Linked DNA regions of Homo sapiens: region 1 is linked to region 2. The links come from fine-mapping of genetic effects on gene expression. A gene starts in region 2. The other region holds a variant in brackets. All regions are shown on one strand. Distances are between the middles of the regions.

Region 1 (11,619 bases), 42 kb before region 2:
CAAAACTATAACAGGAATGATTATTTCTTTTTTTTAATCCATTCTAATAATGTTGGCCCTTTAATTGAAGTGTTTAGAAAGTATACACTTATTATGATTATTGATATGGCTATGTTTGAATTAACTATCTTAATAGTTGTTTTCAATTTGCCCCATTAATTCTTTTTTTGTTCCTTTTTTCTGCCTTCTTTGGATTAAATTAAATGTTTTTATAATTGGGTTTTATCTCTGGCTTATTAGCTCTCCCTCTGTTTTTTCATTTTTGGGGTATGTGTGTGTGTGTGTGTGTGTGTGTGTGTGTGTGTGTGTATGTGTTGCTTTAAATTTTAAAATATACATTTTAGCTTATCTCAGTCTACCTTCAGTGCTATTATATTACTTACAGTGATATTCTTCCATTTTCTCCTTCCCATTCTTTGTACTATTATATATTTTTATCTGTATGTATTATAAACTATAAAACGACTGCCGTTTTTGCTTCAGTTATCTTTTGAAAAAAATCTTAAGTAAAATTTTTTATTTATTCATATATTTACAATTTGTAGGGTTCTTTATGTCTGTATGTAGCTCTAATTTCTTCCTCAAGAATGTCTTATAACATTTCTTGTAGTTCAGATCTCATAAATACAAGTTCTTTCAACTTTTCTTTGAAAAGCCATTATTTAAACTCCACTTTTAAAAGAAATGTTCATTTGATATGGCATTCTAGTTTAACAGAAGGTTTTTGTTAATTTAATTTTCTTGTTCTGTTCTGTTTGCTTTAGTTTCAGTACTTTAAAGATGGTGTTACATTGTCTTCTGGTTTAAATAGGCTCAGGTGAGAAAACGATGATAATTCTTATCTTTGTTGCTCTGTTCATAACATGTTCCCCACCCCTATCTGCTTTTTAAAATTTTCTTTATACTATCAGTTTTTACAAATTTTGTTATGATGTGTCTTAGTATATTTGTCTTTGTGTTTAGCCTGCTTGAAATGCCTTGTACTTCTCAAATATGTGAGCTTATAGTTTTCATCAAATTTGAAAAATTTCAGCCATATTTCTTTTTCTTATTTTTTGTTTTTGGGGTTTATTTGTCGTTGTTTTTGAGACAGGTTCTCACTCTGTCACCCAGGCTGGAGTGCAGTGGCATGATCACAACTCATGGCAGTCTCAACCTCCCTGGCTCAGGCGATCTTCCTGCCTCAGCCTCCCAAGTAGCTGGGACTACAGGCACACGTCACCATGCCCAGCTAATGTGTTTTTTTTGTTGTTTTTTTTTGTTTGTTTGTTTTGTTTTTTGTAGAAACGGGGTTTTGCCATATTGCCCAGGCTGTTCTCAAATTTCCAGGCTCAAGCAATCTGCCAGCCTCGGTCTCCCAAAGTGCTGGGATTATAGGTGTGATTCACCATGCCCAGCAAAGTCATATTCCTGCATATATTTTTCTGTCCCCCTCCATTCTTCTGAAACTCTAATTAAATATACATTACATATTCTCTAATTTCATCCTCACATGTTGGGGGAGCGACCTCGTGGGAAATGATTGAATCATGGGGGTGGATTTCTCCCTTGCTGTTCTCATGATAGTGAGTGAGTTCTTATGAGATCATTTTGTTTAAAAGTGTAACACTGTCCCCCTTCACCCTCTCCCTCCTGCTGCCATGGAATATGTGCCTTGCTTCGCCATCATCTTCTGCCATGATCATAAGTGTCCTGAGGCTTCCTCAGCCATGTGGAGCTGTGAATCAATTAGACCTTTTTTTTAAAAAATAAATTACTCAGTCTCAGGTAGTTCTTTATAGCAGTGTGAAAACGGACTAATACAATGGCTTTTGGAAAAATTTCAAGCAGTCTGACATATATATATGTTAGATGATATGGTGTGGCTCTGTGTTCCCACCCAAGTCTCATATCAAATTGTCATCCTCACATGTTGGGGGAGTGACCTCGTGGGAAATGATTGAATCATGGGGGTGGATTTCTCCCTTGCTGTTCTCATGATAGTGAGCCACTTCTCATCTGACCTCTGATTAAATAGTGCATCACATATTCTCTACTTATATATTAGATATAATAAACTCTAATTATACATATTATATTTCATCTAACATATATATATGTCAGACTGCTTGAAATTTTTCCAAAAGCCATTGTATTAGTCCGTTTTCACACTGCTATAAAGAACTACCTGAGACTGAGTAATTTATTTTTAAAAAAAAGGTCTAATTGATTCACAGTTCCACATGGCTGAGGAAGCCTCAGGACACTTATGATCATGGCAGAAGATGATGGGGAAGCAAGGCACATATTCCATGGCAGCAGGAGGGAGAGGGTGAAGGGGGACAGTGTTACACTTTTAAACAAAATGATCTCATAAGAACTCACTCACTATCATGAGAACAGCAAGGGAGAAATCCACCCCCATGATTCAATCATTTCCCACGAGGTCACTCCCCCAACATGTGAGGATGACAATTTGATATGAGACTTGGGTGGGAACACAGAGCCACACCATATCATTGTCATTGAGACTCTATTCATTATTTTTTTTTTTACTTTTTTTCCTATATATACTTCATTTTGGATAGTTTTCATTTATGTTTTCAAGTTCCCCATTTTTTCTTCTACATTGTCTAATTGGCTATTAATTCCATGCAGTGATTTTTCATTCAAGATATTTTATTTTTCAGAATTAGAATTTATGATTTATGTTTTTCTCTATATGTCATTTTTATCCTCAGTGTTCATATTTTTCTTTAAATAATTATGCATATTTACAATAGCTGTTTTTAAATTGTTGTTTGCTAATTCTTTCACCTCTGTCATTTTGAGTATGTTTCTACCGACTGATTTATTTTACTGGATATGGAATCATATTTTCCTGTTTTCACATGATTAGTAATTTTACGGAATGCCACATTTGGTTAATTTTATGTTTTGAATGATGGATTTCGTAGTCTTTCTTTAAAGAGTGCTACACTTTGTTCTGGTAAACAATTACATTACTGGAAGATCAGCTTGATCTTTTTGAAGATTGTTTTTAAGCTTTATAAAGTCTGTTGAGTAGCCTTTACTATAAGGATAGTTTAGCCCCACTATGAAGGCATGACTTCTCTGAGGTCTTGACCAAATGCCCCAAGGTTTTTAGGGGTTTTTAGTTTGTTTTTCTTCCGATTTTTACTTTTTTATTCTGGTAGCTTTTCTGCTTTTTATATAATTTTTTTTAAATTTCAACTTTTACTTTAGATATGTTGGTACATGTGCAGGTTTGTTACATGGGTATATTGCACTCAGGTTGTGAGCATAGTACCCAACAGGTACTTTTTCATCCCATGCCTCCCTCCCTCCCCTCCCTCCTCTAGTAGTCCACAATGTCTACTGTATCCCTGCTTATGTTCATTGGGCTCAATGTTTAGCTTCCACTTATAAGTGAGAACCTATGGTATTTAGCTTTCTATTCCTGCATTAATTTGTTTAGGATTATGGTCTCCAGCTCCATCCATGTTGCTGCAAAAGACACGATTTCATTCTTTCTTATGGCTGTGTAGTATTCCATGATGTATATGTACTAGATTTTCTTCCATTCCATCATTGATGGGCATTAAGCTTGATTCCATGTCTTTGCTATTGTGAATAACACAGTGATGAACATACAAGTGCAGGTGTCTTTTTGGTATAATGATCTATTTTCCTTTAGGTATATACCCAGTAATGAGATTGTTGGGTCAAATGGTAGTTCTGTTTTATGTTCTTTAAGAAATCTCCAAACTGCTTTCCACAGTGGCTGAATTAATTTACATTCCCACCAAGGTGTAGAAGAGTTCCCTTTTGTCCACAGCCCTACTAGCATCTGTTACTTTTTTACTTTTTAGTAACAGTCATTCTGACTGCTGTGAGATGGTATCTCATTGTTGTTTTGATTTGTATTTCTCTAATGATTAGTGACATGAAGCATTTTTTATGTATTTGTTGACCACTTGTATGTCTTCTTTGGAGCAGTGTCTGTTCATGTCTTTTGCCCTTTTTTTAATGGGGTTATTTATTTTTGCTTGTTGATTTGTTTAAATTCCCTATAGATTCTGGATATTAAACCTTTGTTGGATGCATAGTTTGCAAATACTTTCTCTCGTTCTGTAGGTTGTCTGTTTATTCTATTGATAGTTTCTTTTGCTGTGCAGAAGCTCTTTAGTTTAATTAGGTCTCACTTGTCAATTTTTGGTTGCAATTGCCTTTAGGGACTTAGCCAAAAATTTCTCGCCAAGACCAATGTCAAGAGGGGCATTTTGTAGCTTTTCTTCTAGGATTTTTATAGTTTGAGGTCTTACAAAGCCAAACTATCTTTCTTCACTGATGATACGATTCTCTATTTAGAAAACCCTAAAGACTACACAAAAAGGCTGCTAGCCCTGATGAATGATTTTAGCAAGATTTCAGGATACAAAATCAATGCACATAAATTAGTAGCATTTCTATACACCAATAGTGATTAGGCTGAGAGTCAAATCAAGCACACAATCCCATTTACATAGCCACAAAGAAAATAAAATACCTAGGAATATGGCTAACAAAGGAAATGAAAGATCTCTACAAGGAAAACTACAAAACACTGCTGAAAGAAATCAGAGATGACACAAATAAATAGAAAAATATTCCAAGCTCCTGGATTGGAAGAAACAATATCATTAAAATGGCCATACTGCCCATAGCAATTTACGGATTTAGTGCTATTTTTGTCAAACTAGCAATGTCATTCTTCACATAATTAGAAAAAAACTATTCTAAAATTCATATGGAAGAAAAAAAAAAGCCTGAATAGCCAAAGCAATACTAAGCAAAAAGAACAGAGCCAGAAGCATCACACTAGCTGACTTCAAACTATTCTATAAGGCAATAATAACCAAAACAGCATGGTATTGGTACAAAAACAGACACACAGACCAATGGAACAGAACAGAAAATTCAGAAATGAAGCTGTACACTTATAACCATCTGACTGATTTTTGACAAGGCTGACAAAAACAAGCAATGGAGAAGGGACTCCTTATTCAATAAATGGTGCTGGGATAACTGGCTAGCCACACACAGAAGAATGAAATTGGGTGCTTATCTTTCACTATATACACAAATTAATCCAAGATGCCCCAAGTTCTTAACAAGAATTCTCCAGTCTAACTGCTTAAAATCTGAGTATCTTCCAGCCTTTTGTGAGCTCTGGGAACCCTTCAGTTTATCATTTTTTTACTGGTCTTGTAAGATTTATTCCTTTGCATGCATGTTCAAGTATTCAACAACAGACTCAAGAGAATCCCTGTGATATTTTTGAACCTCATTTCCTGTGCAACTCCCTCCTCTCCAATACTCTATCTTGATAACTGAAGTCACCTTGGTGTTTTGTTTTTGTTTTTTTGGTTTTTTTTGAGACAGAGTCTCACTCTGTCCCTGTAAAAAGGCTATTCAGGCTTTTTGTTGTTGTTGTTGCTGTTCCATATGAATTTTAGAATAGTTTTTTCTAATTGTGTAACCTCCAATCTAATTTTTTCTAATTGTGTGAACTCCAGTCTCTATCTCTGCAACTCAGCAATTCTGCCCTACTTGGCTTGAGAATCCTTCTTTGAACCAGAAGTGGAAAGTGTCTCCAGGCAAAAGTTGGTCAATCTATGGCTCACTTCACGTGTTTCTCTACTTTCAAGAATCACAGTCCTGTGCTGCCTGTTTTCCAAACTCCAAAAAACAGTTGTCTCATGTACTTTGTTCAGTTGTTTTAGTCGTTTATAATGGGAGGGGAAATCTGGACCCAATAACCCCATGATTACCAGAAGAAGACATTGACCCCAAATGTGCTTTTGTTTGCTTTTAAAGCACAAATGCATTGATTACTTTGATCTGAGGACAAAATAGCCTTGGAAGGGTTGAAAGAATTGATTAAATAGAATGAAAATGCTACAGATGTCAATGAGTATTGGGTTATGTTATTTATTAACGGGTTTTTTGTCATTTTATTTAATGAACTTGGGAGGAAGGAATTAGGAAAGACAAGGCCACTAGAAAGCCATTTCACAACAGGAAAAACTGTTTTATTAAGGATTTTCACACTGTTTTACTGTTCCTTAGGTAACTCCCTGTATTAGGTAGGATGGGCTAGATCATTCTGTGGTTATAAGTAACCTTCCAATAGCAGTTACTTAAGATAACTACGTTTTATTCTCACTTATGCTGCCCACCCATTATGGGTAGATTATAGCTCTGTTCCGTATTATCTTCATTTCATCATCCATCTGAAGGAGTAGTACCCATCTGAGACATAAACAGTTCTATGGTAGAGGAAAAGAGATATGGAAAACCATGAGATGGCCCTTGCAACTTTTGCCTTGAAAGTGACACAT[T/G]GCATTGGTCTAAGCAGGTCACATGGCTATCCATTGCTTTAATAAGCCAAGAATATAAAGTCTTTCCAAAGAGAGGGGAAATGTAAGAAAACAGTATTTTGTGAATATTAACAGCAACTGATCTTCTGTCTTGGATTAGCTCCTACAGAAAAAACTAGACAGCATCAGGGAACGCAGCTAAGCATTTGAATGTGGACTCCATCCTGAACACAGTCTGTGCTTAAATGACTACCACAGCCATTAGCAAGACGAAAAAGTGATCTATATCTACTGATATGTGGATACCATGAAAATATAGTTAAGTGAACAAAAGGAAGATAACATAATAGTGTATATAACATACTTTCATTTGTGTAAAGAACAGAATATATTTATATATCTGCATGTATAGCATAGAAATATTCTAAAAGAATGCACAGAAAATTGATGCCTCTGAAATAATATGCAGGAAAATGTTTCTCTGAAACAGAATATAGGAGTCTAAATTCAGAGAAATATTCATATTATACACTCTTTTGTACTGTTTAAATTTTTTCAAGGCTATTTATTTTTTTCCTGATGACTTTTCAAAAATTGCTGCTTAGTGTACACAGAAGAGTTTGATATTGGCCAGTCAATTCCCCCAGCAGTGTCACAGTATGTCATAGAGGGTAAAGATATGGAACCATACCACAGAATGACCATAACCAAGATGAACTTAAGGAAGTTCTTCATAGTTTCCAGAGATTAACCTAATGAAAAAATGTACATGAAATAAAACTTTCAAGTGACTTCCTTATGTCCTGACATTGATGCTGAGTTTTTTCATCCCACTTCTGTAGAGATGTTTATTTCATGATACACTTGTAGAAGAAATAAAACAGAGCTTAATGCTTATTTGTACTACTTGTTTCCTGCTATGTTCTTCTCCCACAAAAATTGCCACTGATGAACTATTCCTAATCTGAGGAGGCATTCTGCAACATCTGCCTTCTGAGCATGGAACTTGACTTTCCAGAATGGCAAGAGCCAATCCTCTGCCTAATCCTTACAAAGAACAGACACTGCTTTCTCCAGAATTCACTTCACAATATTGGAGCTATGGCACAAGAACAAGGTCAATGTCACACTGGAATAATGAACATATTAACTAAGAAGTTCTGAGTTTTATAGTGAGAATCAGGAAATTTCACACCTACCTCTATGGCTATGTTTTAAATTTTTTTATGATTCTAATTAACCATCTCTTAAAATTTTTCTGTGTTAATGTGGGAGAAAGAAGAATGGCCACCCAAAGATGTCTACTTCCTAATCACTGGAATCTGTAAATATGTTGTGTTACATGGCAAATTATGGAAAGAAATTATGTTACATGAGAATTAAGATTGTAAATGGGATTAAGATTACTGATCAGCTGATCTTAAAATAGGGAAGCTATCCTGTATTATCCAGGTGAGTTCACTGTAATCAAAGGGTTCTCTAAAGTGGAAGTGAGTGGCAGAAGATGCCTCATCTTCATCACTGTCAGAGTGATGAAATATAAGAAAGATTCAGCCAGTCACCATGGGCTTTGATGATGGATGAGGTTCACAAGCCAAGGGATGTCAACAGTGTCTGGATGGTGGAGTAGGCAAAAAATTGATTCTCTCCTAGAGTCTCCAGAAGGAACATAGCCCTCTGACACCTTTATTTTGACCCAGTGTAAAAGTGAGACCTACCCCAAACTTCTAACCTGCAGAATTACAAGGTAATATATTTGTGTCATTTTAAACCACGAAATTTGCAGCAATTTATTTCAGCAGCAATAGTCAAGTAATACAATGTTTATTCCCCAGTGTTTAACTATACAGATTACTGGGTGCATCATACTCAGGACATGAACCGGTTTTATTAACTGGAAGAAAAACCTACGACATGGACTCTACAGGCACCTAATCATGTTGTACCCCTTTTCTTCACACAAATTAAATGTTGGAAGTCCTCTTGATAATCAAGACACACAAGTAACTTGGAAGATCCAATAATAGGTCATGTTTCAATTAGATGTGAAGTAAGTTGTTTGAAAGAAAAACAACTTAGTCTTGCCATGCACACCTTCCATAGCACTTACTTGCCTTTCATATGGAGAGATTGCACTGTTGTCCTAATATCTTGCCCCACCATCTGAAACATACCTAGTGATTGTTGTTTACTTGAAAGTTTGACCAGATGCAGTATCTAGTTGTTCAAGGGTGGAGCAAGACACAGGTAAGGATACTATTAAGAATAATACATACAAGCTTATTTGGTATAACCCAACAAAATAAATCTTTTTCTAAGAAAAGCTGATTAAAAATTGATCATATCAATTGCATTAGCCATTCCCAATGAAGAAAGTTTTAGATAGAATAAGTACATCAGAAATGCTGAGAATACAAGTAACTCAATCCCTATCTTCACAGCTATGTTATAGCTACTTGTACTACACCAAATGACAAACATAGACTTCACTAATATCATTTAAGTTTAAAGATATATGGGCAAAAACCTTGTTTGGGGCATCACCACCTCATTCCAATGCTTTCAAACAAATTGTTTGTTAGATTCTGAAAGGGTGGTGCAGACAGCTATCAAGTCTTGAATCAGATGTCTGGAGGATAGTAAATGACAAAACTTGCAAGATTTGTTCATTGCTTAGTAGGTCATTCCTACATTAAATGAGAAGTGTCAATCCTGCTTATTTCTTAAGAGCTATTCCAGGCTTAATAAAAAACTTACATCAGAAGTTATTCTTTGTGTTAGTCTATGTTCATTGTTTTTTCACTCATGTATTCCATAAGAGATTGTCTTTTCTTAGCAACTATGCCACTGAACCAGGGTGCATTAATTTTATAAATGATATCAGTGTCACTATTGCAAAAGGTTCAGAGGAAGGCTCAAACTGTGGCATCACCACGGTGACTCGCTGTGATGGAAGCACCCCAGGGGCAATGGACCACAGGAAAACCATTAGAAAGCTCTCCTCTGAGACATGTTGTTGTTTTTTACTCAGCCACTTAAGGAATGGTCAAGGCCACAAAGTCAAGGAAGCAATCACTCTTCTCTGACTATTACAAAGAATAAAATGGAGTCTCTGGGCTCTTCTACAACCATTTGCACTGACATAACCTTGAGAAAGGCTTCCCCATTTCTTACTGGAAAATTACTTTAGCAAGAGAGAAAAGGTCTTACAAGTGCCAAGGGGGCAGTAGTACATTACTAGCTTGTTTGCTCCCATTTTAAGTTTCTGTAGATTTTTTAAATGTTTCATCAGTTTGGACAGAAGTGAGGATGTAAATTTGGGGTTTGCAAAAAAGTGGCCTGAGGGACGGAAATGGGGACAAAGAGGGACAGGACAACTTCACCTAGATCAATTTTGTAGTAATAACAGATTTTATAGCAAAGACCTGTCATTTCTTGTTTCTTTGTAATTACCATTCAAAATAATAGAGACTAATTGTTAAACGTGATAACTAAAAAATAGGGAGATATTTATCAGAAGCCACTAACTTTTAAGAGATAACAAAGCTGTTAGAAAAAGCTTTTCCATTAAGTCTGGGAATTTGCTTTCATGCTGCTACTTCTGTGCTTTTAACTTCTGGAGTCAGTCTTACCAGTGGTTTTCTATTTCTTTCATATAATTGTATAATATATATCATATTATTCTATTATAAATATTAATATATTCTATTATATATACTTATTAATATATTGTATATGCCTATATATGTTATAAAATAAAACATATTTTATGGTTAACATTTGGAAACTAGTAAGGTTGACAGTACGCAGTTAATGCTAACCTAGCAACCTTCTGGGTACTAATATACTGTAAAGGAAAACCAATTTGCTAAGGCTATTAGCAAAGTAAAGCACATATTAGTCAATATTTTAAATAAGCTGCCTCCGGATGACTTCTCAATGACATGTCAGCCATGACGTCAACAGTAACCATGGTTTAGATTTATGTTATCACATACATAGGTTAGGGGAAATTGGTATTGAATCATTATCAAAAGTTAATGCCAGTAGGAACTGGTTGTATTTGACTTATTGCACGACTGCAGAATGTACCTCTAATCTTAGCTAGAAATTTTCTGAATTCATGTTACTGTTCAAAAAGATTTGAAATAAATAGGCCTAAATTACAAGTGTTATTGCAAACAGTAAAGAGTTCATAAATAGGATGTGAACTAAGTTAACTAGTTTTATATGTATACAAATATATATAAATAAATTATATATAAATGTATAAATAAATTATATATAAATGTATATATATAAATATGTACACATATTTAGAGGTTTAACTTTTCTTTTAAAATTCAATTACAGTGAAAAAAGCTTTTAGAAATAGCATATATTAGGAAATTGAAATGTTTTTTCTTCTGGTGCCTTTCCATATCTAAAGTCACTTTTTCCTTTTGCTTAGGAACAAAATAATATACTGTGTTTAATTTAGTTTGACCTATAAACTTATTGTTTTTCTTATTTTTGAAATAAAATACATGGAACTGTAAAAGTAAATAGGAAAATGTTCCAATTTCAGAGATGTGGGAAAAGGAAGAAAATATCTAGAAAGGTATCTTATTTTTACAGGGTAAACAAAACCTCACAACTTTTTATGTACTTACATATTTCTAAATGTGAAAATTTTCACAAATGTCACCTCTCCTTTGATTTGAGTACAATTATCCATGTAAACCCACACACTCATTTATCTTAAAATCCTTATTTCTAATTAAATTGCAAAAGGGTGTAAACATTCCAAACCAAGAGCAGGCTGTTCTCATTTATTATTGAAAGAACATGATGACCTCCTAATACATACATACACACAGAGGGACACATCACGACTCAGACCCAGGAAAATGTTGCAAGCCTTTGTTCAGTTACCACAAGCTAAGAGAGGGACAGTAAGCTACTCACAACCCCAAAAGGTTGTTATCCACCCAGTAAATTAAACCATGGGTTAGCCAACTTGTCCAGAAAGTATGATAGACTGTGATTAAGACCAACCCTTAGGCAAATTCTCCTTGCAATGGTTTTTTTCTGGCCTCAGAATCCTTTTCTGTGTATAGGAGAGGGAAGCATTATGAAGGAGAGCTGGTAGATCGAGCTGTTCACCATGGTCTCCCCTCCCCAGCTGGAAGCCAGATCTGGGCTAGAAGTCAAACTCAGGAGATCATAAATACACTCCACAGAAGTAGAGATCAGAGCACACAAAACAGTCCTGCCCTTTTCTTCACTAAGATCATTT
Region 2 (11,619 bases):
GTGATCAGAAACTGTTTTTTCTGGCAGAAAAGTATTTTTCCAACAATTAGGCTTAAGAGAAAGCCACAAAGACCTGAAGAAGGAAAAGTATTTTCTTACACAAAAGACTTGGGCTTATCAAGGAAATTGAAGCAGCAAAAAATGTTAGTTATTGAGACCAATGCTCTTCCTTTCACGTTGGCTGCCACCATGCAAGCGACTGAGTGTATGAAAGCATTGCAAATATTTGGAGGCAGGATAGGATGGCAGTTAGCAACAGAGCTTGAAGTTGGAAATTCCAGGCTTGAATCCTGATTCTTCCACCTACCAGCTCTTACAAGTTACTAACATCTGGTGAGTGTTTAATGAAATGATGCATTTGAATTGCCAAAAACAGTACCAGACAGGTAGTATATGCTCCATAAACATAGTATTCTTATTTATTGAGACAAAACTTTTTAAAGGATATATGTCCCAAAGAACAAAGAGAAATCTTAGCATGGATCAACATTCCTCTGTCAGGGAAACTCTTCTTGAGAAAGGGCACACCAGGAAGCAAGAGGGGGAAAGGAGATAGGTACCTAAGTGGCCAAGTCAACCCCTGTGACCAATGACTAGCAGCTTTTAAAATCAATGTGTGCCTTCACATGAAAGATGAGGGGGCATGAGGGTACACAGAGAGGGCCCTGTGCAGAAGATGCTGCACTCACACCTGCCTCTGAACCCCCTGATTCTTTCCATGCCCACCTCACATGCAGGAGGGCTAGAGCTGATCTAGGTGAGTGAACCTCCCTGACCACTTTGCCAGCACTTAGCTAGGAGGAATAGAGAAGAGATGGGACCATATACCTGGAAAGGTATCCATAAAGAGTTGGCAATGTGAATTTGCTCAGTTGATTGATGTGGCTGCCTTCCAAACTGATACCCCCTCCCTAGTTTTGGGTGGACCTAATAAGCAGATTTGCTTTTCCTGGTGCTGGTTAAACACCCAAATGCTCTTCCCACATCAACAAAGCCCTTAACTGAGTACAAAGGAAAAACTCAGTCTGAAGCTCTCCCATGAAAAGGATTTTGAGGGAGGAATGTCAGAGCCCAGAGACATCCAGGATGGAAGAATCTCAGAGGCCCGTGTTAAACATCACCTTCCTCTCTGGTGCTTACTCACATAGTCCAAATGTGAATTCAGCAAAACTAAGCTACTTGAATCCACAAACCTTGAGATAAATGGAGTTTTGAAATAGTGCTCCTTTTTGGATGGTCCCTGTCTATTGCATTTTGTCCACTTTATAATGGTCACCCTTGATCTCACACCCTTTACTGCCTCTTACTCTCCCCAGCCAGCCCCTCTTAGGTTTCTGCACACAAATGCTATTCTTCATCTATTTATCAAATCCACTGTACAGAGAGTGTCTTGATTTAATCTGCATTTTCAGCACCTAACACAGTTCCTGGTACATTGTAGTGGCTCCACAAATACTCATCAAATGGATTCGTGAAGTACCAATTATGTGTCTAGCATCTCAGTTATGAGACCCAATTGAGAAAGTGGTTTGTACTGAAGTGCCAAACCTAGCTCCCCAAATTAGTGACCTTATAAACTGACAGATAGGAAGCATAACTTGGGACCATTTGTGAAACAGAGTGAAGTTAGCTGGCTCCACTGTGAATTGAACCCATCACCTTATAGTCACTAGCACCTGGCGCTGTCAACTGAATAAATGAGGCATCCACTGCCCCTGATTCAACAAACAGCTGAGGTGACAAGACTCTCTTCCTTGCCCCAGAACCCATCCTTGTTACATAGAGTCTTCCTAATGTGAAAGCAGCTTCTCAAAGTTCAGATGGGGAAGCTGAAGCTGACCTCCCACAAGGCAAGTGCTATTCTCTGTTTCCAACAAATGCAACATGCCAACACTTCTAACAATGAGAATAAAAACTCAGAGAAAAACAACTGAAAAGAAAAGGAGGAGAAAAGCTCCTCAGCTTGCTTGAACTTACAATCATGTGCCACATAACGTTTCTGTCAACAACGGACTGCATAAACAACAGTGGTCCCATAAGATTATAATATTATATTTTTACTATTCTTTTTCTATGTTTGGAGGTGTTTAGATACACAAATGTCATTGTGTTGCAACTGCCACAGTATTCAGTACAGTAACATGTTATACAGGTTTGTAGGCTCGGTAGGCTATGCCATAAAGCCTAGGTATATAGTAGACTATACAGTGTAGGTTTGTGTAACTGCACCCTGTGATGTTCACATGACCATGAAATCACCTAACGATGCATTTCTCAGAACATATTTCCATCATTAAGCGATACATGACTGTTTCGCAGAAGGGTTGGACCTCCCATATGGTCTCAGAGCTACAAAATACAATTTAGGATTTCTATGCAAAACAGGTGAGCCTAACACCAGAATTTCACTGTGGAGTCCAGAGGGAAGTTGCCCTTGGCTCTGGAAACTCTTTTTCTCCCTCCACGTTGCAGGGAATTTTTGGCTTTCCAAGATGACAAATCCCCTTTTGCACTGATTTGGCCTTCGGTCTGTGCTGCGACAGATACACAGGGCCACCCCTAGGTGGGGTTCATAGCCCATGGCAAACCACATTGTTGTTCTCTGCACCTAGAAAGCCTTCATACCTCTCTCTGCTGCACAGACTCTGATTCATTCAAGGCTCACTCTCTCCATGAGACCTTCCCTGATTTCTAAAGCACTCATCAGATTCCTTCTTTTCTGACTCCCTGTAATATGTAAGTATGGTTCCTCTTTATCATACCATTTGAAACTTAATCTCTTTTCATCTCACATAATATACTAATATTAATATTTAATATGATAACTTACTTGACCCAGGGAGGCCTGAATGTACCTGGAGGTAACTACTCATAAATTAGAATTGGAAGGACCCTAGCCAATCAGATGATGGTGCTTGAAATTTTATCATTAGAATTATAGAAAGAGAATCAAAAATGATTGGACATTACTCACTCAGTCCAACCTCTTGCCTAGCACAAGAATCCTTCCACAGTAGCTTGGCCGATGTTCATTTGGCCTTTGCAGCAATTTTTCCAATTACAGGAATTTCATTTTCTTTGCAATAATTCATTCCCATATAGGACCTCATTAAGCTTCTATATGAAGTTTTTATATAGAAAATAATTCTTCAAGTTTGAAGAATTATTAAAGGTAATACCCTTCAGCAGAGATAACATGTTAAACACGCATGTATTATCTGTCACTTAGACCTAATTCTGCATGTTGCCTAATACATTTTTTAAAACCTAAGACATTTAATAGATAACTAATTTATAGATAACTAAGAAAAAGTGGAGCACTCTGATAGGAGAATGAACAAAAAGTCTGATAAGACAACTTATAAAAAAAATGATATACAGGAACAGAAAACCAGATACCACATGTTCTCGCAAAAGGAAGCTAAATGATGAGAACACATGACACATAGAGGGGAACAACACACACTGGGGCCTACCGGAAGGTGGAGAGTGGCAGGAGGGAGAGGATCAGGAAAAATAACTAATGGGTACTAGGCTTAATACCTGTGTGATGAAATAACCTATGCAAAAAAAAACCCATGACACAAGTTTACCTATATAACAAACCTGCACATGTACTCCTGAACTTAAAAGTTAAAAAAAAAAAAAAAGAATGGCCTGGGTCAGGATAGGCATGAGGTTACAGTAGAAAAGAAACAATAAAAAAGGTAACTTTGTATTAAATATTGAAGTATGAATTAAATTTCAGAGTTTTTGCAGCCTTTGAAGAAAAAACAGGTGATATATGTGCCCAATAAATATAGGAAAAAATGCGTCTAATCTAACAAGTAATCAAATAAACGTTGTCACCTGTCAACTTGGACAACCACTTTGAAAAATAAAAAATAGCCAGTATAGGGAGACCTGTGAAATAGGGTCTCCCATTCACTACTGGTGAGAGTATAAGTTGTTGCAGTCTTCTGGAAATGATTTGCATGTGTGTCATGCCTCTCCATACACTTTTAACTAGTCATCTTGCTTTTTGAAGTGTATCCTAAGAAAATAACCAAAGAAGCAGACAAAGATTTATATATAGGGATGCTCATCCAAGTAGCATTTACCACAGCAAAAAGTTGAAAACAACTTAGATGTACCCCAAAAAATGGGAAGGAAGAAAATATATCATGGCACATCCACATGTCAGAATGCAACAAACACAGAACACCATGTTTTGGAAATTATTTTATGTCTTGGGAAATAGCAAATATGCAATTTTAAGTGAAAATGCAAGATTATAAAATTATACGTGTATTAGAATCCTACTTTTATTTAAAAATATAAATATGAATAATTCAAAGTGAAAACACCTATCCAGCAATAACCACTATCCAGCCACCTATCCGGTGATAACCACTGCATATGGATATTGGGATTATGGATTGTTTTATAGTTTCTTCTTCAAATTTTTCTGCATAGTTCTAACTTTCTACAGTAACTTCTATTATTTTTATAATTAAAAAACTATTTATATGATTTGGAATGCTTTACAGTGAACTAGTTAAGAAGAAACTCTTCAAACTCCCAGGTAGCTAAGGCAGTGTTTAGCAGATAACTATGCGGAGAGCCATGTCCAGCACCTGGGGTATTTCCTAAGCAAAGAGCTGGTGGCAGCTAGAGAGAGTTTGGGAAAAAGCTATATCTTTTCATCTTTGTATCCTCAACACCCAATATCGTACCTCATCTGGACCAGAAACATAATTTACAAGGCCTGGTGCAAAATAAAAATTCAGAACTTCTTGTTTGAGAAATATTACAAATTTCAAGATGTTAACAGTGCATTGAACCAAGCACAGGGCCCTCCTAAGTGTAGGGCCCTGTGTGACTACAGAGATCCCACACCCATGAAGTGGGCCATACATTGTAGGTGCTCAATAAATACTTGTTGAAAGGAAAGAAAGAATGAGTAGATAGAATAAATACAAACAGACTTCTCAACTGTGCCCAATGGCAAAACTAGACTCAGCAAGATTTGAAATTATGGGAGTGTTCTGTACTCCTAGAGGTTAAATTTTTAAAAGAAGAAGAAGAAATTATGGGAGAGTATGAGGTCATAGGCATAAGAAATCACTGTTCCAGAATTTTCCCAGAGAGTTTATATTCAAACTACACTGTCCTGTTGTCCTCAAAAATGTATCTGTTAGATCATAGTCCACAGTTTCTATTTTTGATCTGGACAACATGATCAGTGCATCTATAGAAGAAATAAATATTATCACTTCTGTCTGTTCCAATAAGATATTTGGCTCAATTATATCCTCCCTCACTGCTTTTGCCTCAACCTACTTTTCCTCTCATAACCCTAAGCTTAGCAATAGAACTCTCCTTACCCATCCTTTCCTTCCTGCACCCCACACACACTCATCCTCAGCACTCCCTCTGCCTTTAATGCCAGCCAAGCAGACACTGAACATGAGAAGGTGTCTGCAGAGGATGTGAATAACCCTCATCCTAATCCCCTCCATGGTCTCCCTGCACAGGCCTGGATGAGGCCCAGGAGAACTGGAGTTGCCAGCTCACAGAAGCAGTTGCAGCCTAAAAGAAGACCAGGCAGCCAAAGGTTGTCACTTATCAAAGAAAAATGAGACAATTTGTTACAAGTTATTAGACTGGAGAAACTGAGCCATTAAGTGGGAGCCTGACCCTTGGATGGGAACAATGATGCTAAAGGGAGATGCTCATCCCCGCTTACAGGGCTGCGTCCCAGCCCTCTGATGCCAAAAGAATACAAGAAGTCTAACACCCCCCTGCACAAGCCAAGTTAGCAAACGTCCAGCATCTTGTTCAGTCAGCAGACATGCTATGGTAATAGTAGTGACACCCCCAATACATACCAAGTGTTTTGCTCCTTAATCACTGTCACAGACAATTGATACTGCCATTGATACTCGTGGGCTTGGGGAGGTCCCCAAACACCCGTAGGACCTCAATCCTGGCTGGCGTCCAGGCTCTTGACACTGTTGTGAGAAGGAATTTAAGGATGAGTTGGAAAATACTGAAAGTGCAGAGATGTATCACAAAGCAAAAAGTACACACCCGAGAAAAGGGAGTGTGTGCCTACTCAAGAGAGAGAGTCATGCCCAGTGGGGTTCAGGGTTTCCATCTTTATGAGTTTCTTTAACTAAGAGGTGGAATATTCATGAAGATTCCTGGGAAAAGGTGAACATTTCCTGGAACTGTGGTACCACCCATTTTTACACCAATTTGGGTGTTCCCGGACTATCACGGCACTGGTGGGTGTGTGATTTAGTAAGTTAATGAACATATAATGAGGTTATAGGTGAAACCCATGTCAAATCCAGCACCATTTTGGGTCCAGTTGGTCTTAGCCAGCTTAGCCTACATCTGGTTTTCAGGATCTTATCAGCCCCTAGTTTATGCAGCTATTTCAACAATTTCCTTTTGCTAGTCATGTGAAACTGCTAACTGCTCCATTCTCCAGCTACCACCCAGTATTACCACTTGGTCCTTACAAGAACATGTGATGTAAGATAGGACAAGTATTCAATCTCAGTTTATAATTTAGGAAACTGAAACATCAAGAGGTTAAGTGAGGCCAGGCACAGTGGCTCATGCCTATAATTCCAGCACTTTGGAAGGTTGAGACAGGAGAATCACTTGAGTTCAAGACCAACCTGGGCCACATAAGGAGGGCCCATCTCTACAAAAAATTTAAAAATTAACCAGGTGTAGTGGTGCATGCTTGTGGTCCCAACTACTAAGAAGGGCTGAAGTGGGAAGATTGCTTGAGCCTCAGAGATCAAGCCTGCAGAGATTTGATCATACCACTGCACTCCAGCCTGGAAGACAGAGCAAAACCCTGTATCAAAAAAAAAAAGAAAGAAAGAAATAGAGGGAGATAGAGAAAGGAAAGGAAAGGAAGGGAAAGGAAATGAAAGGAAAGGAAAGGAAAATAAAGGGGGAAAAAAAGCTGAAGTTACTTACCCATGGTCAGAATTTTAGCTAATCACAGGCCCGGGACAAAAACCCAGGTTTCCTGAGTTTAGTTTAATGGCTCTTTCTACATTGCTATGGTTGAGGCTAGGTGTAAGTATTTCTCAATTACAGCCAGACTAATGGAGGTAGGGAGGTATACAGGAAGGATGAGGGTGGATGAAACAGACTCTAGGAGGAATTTCTGGGCATTTTTACATTAATAAATAAGACATAAATAATTTGTCATTTATATTGCAGCTTAGTGGCTACCCTGTTTTTAATTAATCACATAAAAGCAGGAAGCCTGACCAAAAGTGGAACAAACAATTTCTATTTTGGTTTGGAATGAGATTATTTTTGCTTTATTTGAATATATGATTCTGATGTCCTGGGGACACTTTTTAAACCAGATAGTGAAGCCAGCCTTGAATAGCTGACTCAATTCAATCCAACAAGTGTTATTGAGCACGTTCTCCCAGCCTTAGACTTGTGGCTGACCTTGATTGTCTCCCTCAGGCAGATGCTTCTTTCAAGCCCCTATTTTGCAAGCAAAGGTCCCATTATAGCAGTTATCAGATTAGAATATTTTTGTCTGTGTGGCTGCTTTACCACTGTATTGTGAGCCTTGGAAGGCAGGACCCATACCCTAGTCATCTTTATAACTCAAAAGTCTAGGAGATGAGCTGAGAGATGACTGGTGTTGGTAAATCTGTCTGATAGATAAGCTAATGAATGCACAAACTGGCTAACCTGAAAAGATCATTGACCTCTCCAAAGTTTCAGGTCTCTTATTTATGAAATAGATATGGGTACACCTATTCTGCCTGAGCCATGGGTTTGTTAAAAGATTAAATGTTTATATGTTTATTTTCTGGCCTTCACACACACAGACCTCAAGCAAACTTAAATGTCAAAAACCTGAAGACAGGAGCCTTGTTCCTCTTGTTCATGGTTGTGTCCTCAATATCTATACTGGTACCTTAGTAAGTGCTCAATTAATATTTGTAGAAGGGAGGAAGGTGGGACAGAAAGGTATAGGAGAATATTTTATAAACACTAATGTCTCCAAAAAGTTAGAATTCCCCCAACCAAAATGCAATACATTGTGATCATCAGAAAGCACCTTGTGCTGCTTAAAGACTCTGTCCTGTTATCAGTTCTGCCCCATCAGTGGATCAGTCCCTTCTGTCATCTGTGGATAAGGAGCATTGCACTCACACTTCTCCTTCTCAGACGAGGCCAACTGTGTCTTTTTCAAATTTTCTGTGGTAAAGGATAAAGGGGGAAGCCATAGAGTCATATCAACAATGCCAGTAACCAAGAAAAATGGCTGCCAAAACTTACCTAGGACTCACCTAGGATTCATAATGCCATTTGTGGAGTCACTAACCCAGGCTCTGAGGGACACGGTGGTCCAGACAGAGCCTGTGTCAGAGCTGAGAGCTCCTGTGGCCTGGCCCCTGCAGCCACTTTGGAGGTGGAGTGGGGAACACTGGTGCCTCTGGAGCCCAACTGAGCTGAATAACCATCTCAGCACAGGCACTTCCTGGGGATTAATGAGGCACAGAAAAGAATAACACCTCAAACCATTAACCCCAGCCAGCCATAAATCCTCAGGAATTGCATGGCAGAGTGGCTGTTCCTGCTATATTAAGGTGAAAATGCATTTTTAAAAAGCCTATGGATTTTCTTTAATGGACAGCAATACCATTGGTACCCAATGGGCCTTTCCACAGACAGAATACCTCAGCCCAGTGGCCTGGCTCTTTATCCAATTTGCAATGTTTCCTTGCCTCTGCCTACTGTCTTTTCCTGTGCCCTTTGCTTTTAGAATAGATTGAAAAACACCATGTTAACTGAAAAAGCACTGGAATAAGACAGCGATAAGTCCAACCAGCTTGCAGCAGCCATGACCTGAGAGCAGATGCCGCTCTAAACATGGCTCAATGGGCAGCCAGATGGGGAGAAAAATCAAGAGTAAAGCCTGCCAAGGTGTAGGAATCCCCAACTGACCTTTTTGACATTGAAATCCCCAATGAAAATGCAAATGTTATCAGACAGGGGGAAGCCCCTGAGCCACTTGTAGGCTATCAACAGGTTTGCTACAAATTGTCTAATACAGTCAATCACCTGGCAGAGCCCTGGGCAATGGAACTCAACACAGGTATTAACAGGGGAAGTAGAGAATGTCAGAAATGATGGGCTAGAAAGGTAAAACAAACAAAAAAAAAGTGGGGGAACATGGGAGACATAAAGAGGGTTGGGGGAGGCACCAGGTCATTAGCCAGTGGATATTGATATGGACAGGAGGCAGGGAAACACGGGGTAGAAAAGGGTAGGATTCTTGGTGAGGGCTCCACCCTCAAGCCTGGACCCACAGCCCTAAATGAGAACATGCATTCCTATTTTCCCTCCCAAATGTTGCTTTTTCCAAAACACCCTAACCTGCCACACCCCCCCCCATCCTCTACCCATAAAAACCCCAAGCTCCACTGGCAGAGGAGCAGAGCAGTGTGGCAGAGGAGAGAAGAGAAACGGTGTCTGAACATCAAGAGGAAAAGAGGCAGCTGAACATTGGAGAGGAATTTGGGCGGGGATGATCAGAGAGGAGTTTGGCTGGCGACAGCTGAATTCCAGGGGAAAATTATCTTCCCATTCCATCCCCTTTCCAGCTCCCCATCCTGCTGAGAGCCACTTCTACCATGCAATAAAATCTCTGCATTCACCATCCTTCAAGTCTGTGTGATCTCATTGCTCTTGGGCACCAGACAAGGATCTGGATGCAGGTGCAAGAGGCTGTCACACTGACTCTCCACTGAGCTGTTTAACACTTAGCCATCCATGGACAGCAAAAGCTAAAAGATCACTGATTATAACACATGCCCCTTTGGGGCTCCAGAGGTCACAGACAACCCCTAGATGCTGCCATGGGATGGTACAGGGTTCATTCCTGTTGGCACTAGCCCTTGCTCCTGAACTCACTCACCTGTGTGCTCCCCCTCCTGCAAGGGGTTTGAGCTTGATGGCTGAGTAAATGAGCCACCTTTGTCACAAGTCCCACAAGGGGGTCAAGGGAACTTTCCCATCTCAATACAAAGGGTGGTGGATGGAAAGTAAATATCAGATCACCAATAACTATCAGATTAATAATTTTTAAGCATAGGTAGGGGATGGCTAAAGACAAACAGAAGCCAAAAGAGAAGACAAAAGAGAGAGAGAAAAAAAATAACATCAGAGTTTAGCAAGAAGAACAGAAGAATTCCTTTTGGCTGTCACAGAATATTGAAGTTCTTGGAGGTTCCACCAACCAGGGTAAAATAAATATCTACTCCATAACTCAATTTGTCTATTAAAACAATCTCTTTCCTTCCTTTGAGGATAAAACTTCCTTCAGAAAATCACTCTGGGAGATGAAGAGTTAATATTTAAAAATTTCCAGGCAACTTTGGAGAGCAAGGTTCTATTCTAAGTGTGAGGGATTCATATTATAAGAAATCCTGTAGATTGACAAAACTAAATGGCCTCTACATCGTATAACCATAATCCTCTTCAGTGTACCAAAGTCCAAAAATAAAGACCAGATGTCTTCAAATTGCTGACGTTTATTGAGCTGGTTTCACTCACTCACAGCTAAACCAAGCTTTCCCTGGACACAAAGCTAAGGATTTCCGTCATTGTATTATTGGTTTTTTTGCCACAGTATTCCTGTTCATGTATACGGGAACCCTTTTGGCCTCCTTGGGTCTGGAATGGAGTTTTCTACTCCTTAGAGGATGTGTCTGTGGAAGCTCAGTTGAAACCTGTTAAGTGCCTGTGCCTTTCTGACAGCCTCTTCTGGCTGGGAAGAGCCCATTTCTCACTAGCAGCTGGTCAGAATAGTGAGGCCTCCACCAGTGACTTGTCCATGGCTTTGTGTAGGCTAGCTGCCATGGGATGGTACATGGGGGGTAGCTCCCCCACCTCCTGCCAACGCACTCACTCCCTTTTTCTCATAAGTTTCCAAACAGTATTATTAGTGCTAAAATGTTTCCTGGTTTTTATTCTTATATGTGTTTGCCCTATTAGATCACAAGCTTCTCAGCCATGAGAACTGTTTTATAATTCCATGTCATTCTCTCCGTCAACTCGCATAGATCATATATTGATGTCTGTACATCATGAGATATTAGTGAAGAGTATGTTGACTGACTAATTCTTAAAAGGGAGAAAAAAAAGAAAAAGTGAATTGTGACAATGGATTGCAGACCAAAGACAAATAGGTGTGTGCTTACAGATATGTGTGTACATGTTCATCTGTATATTCACTCATTCCATAAATACGTATTGAGCACCTACTATGCTCCAGGTACTAGGCATGGGGATACAGAACAGAACAAGAAAAATAAAGCCCTTTCCTCCCTGAAAACCTCCTTAGGATCTTCTTTCAATACAATTTGCCAGATCCTTGAGTGTCATGTTATTTGTGTGTTTGTAGGGTTTATACCATGGCTGAAAAGGGACAGTGTGTTTGGATATGTGTCATATAAAGAAAAAACACATGTGTCCTCTAAAAATATCCTTGGTTTGGGTTCAGAGTACAAAAAAATAGAAAAGAGTATAAGATACTGATATGAACAGGAGACAGGGAAATATTGGGTAGAAGAAGGT

Which allele goes with the higher level. Alleles are on the strand shown, and positions count from the first base shown. SD is a standard deviation of normalised expression in the study named.
With allele G in place of T in region 1, the expression in tibial artery of the gene that starts at base 6,114 in region 2 is lower (large effect, 0.77 SD a copy in GTEx).

Evidence for each region. PIP is the estimated chance that this variant, and not a neighbour inherited with it, causes the effect.
Region 1: its variant is fine-mapped to the expression of PAPPA2 in tibial artery (GTEx, PIP 0.99).

What each region holds. Positions count from the first base shown.
Region 1 is chr1:176,499,501-176,511,119 of GRCh38, reverse strand. The region is part of intron 1 of PAPPA2 (pappalysin 2); the gene reads right to left. Among named protein-coding and RNA genes, the nearest start is that of PAPPA2, 42 kb to the right of the region's middle. The variant T/G (reference allele first, on the strand shown) is at 6,363.
Region 2 is chr1:176,457,670-176,469,288 of GRCh38, reverse strand. PAPPA2 (pappalysin 2) reads right to left here and starts at 6,114. Exons shown (of 23, transcript NM_020318.3): 1 at 5,871-6,114.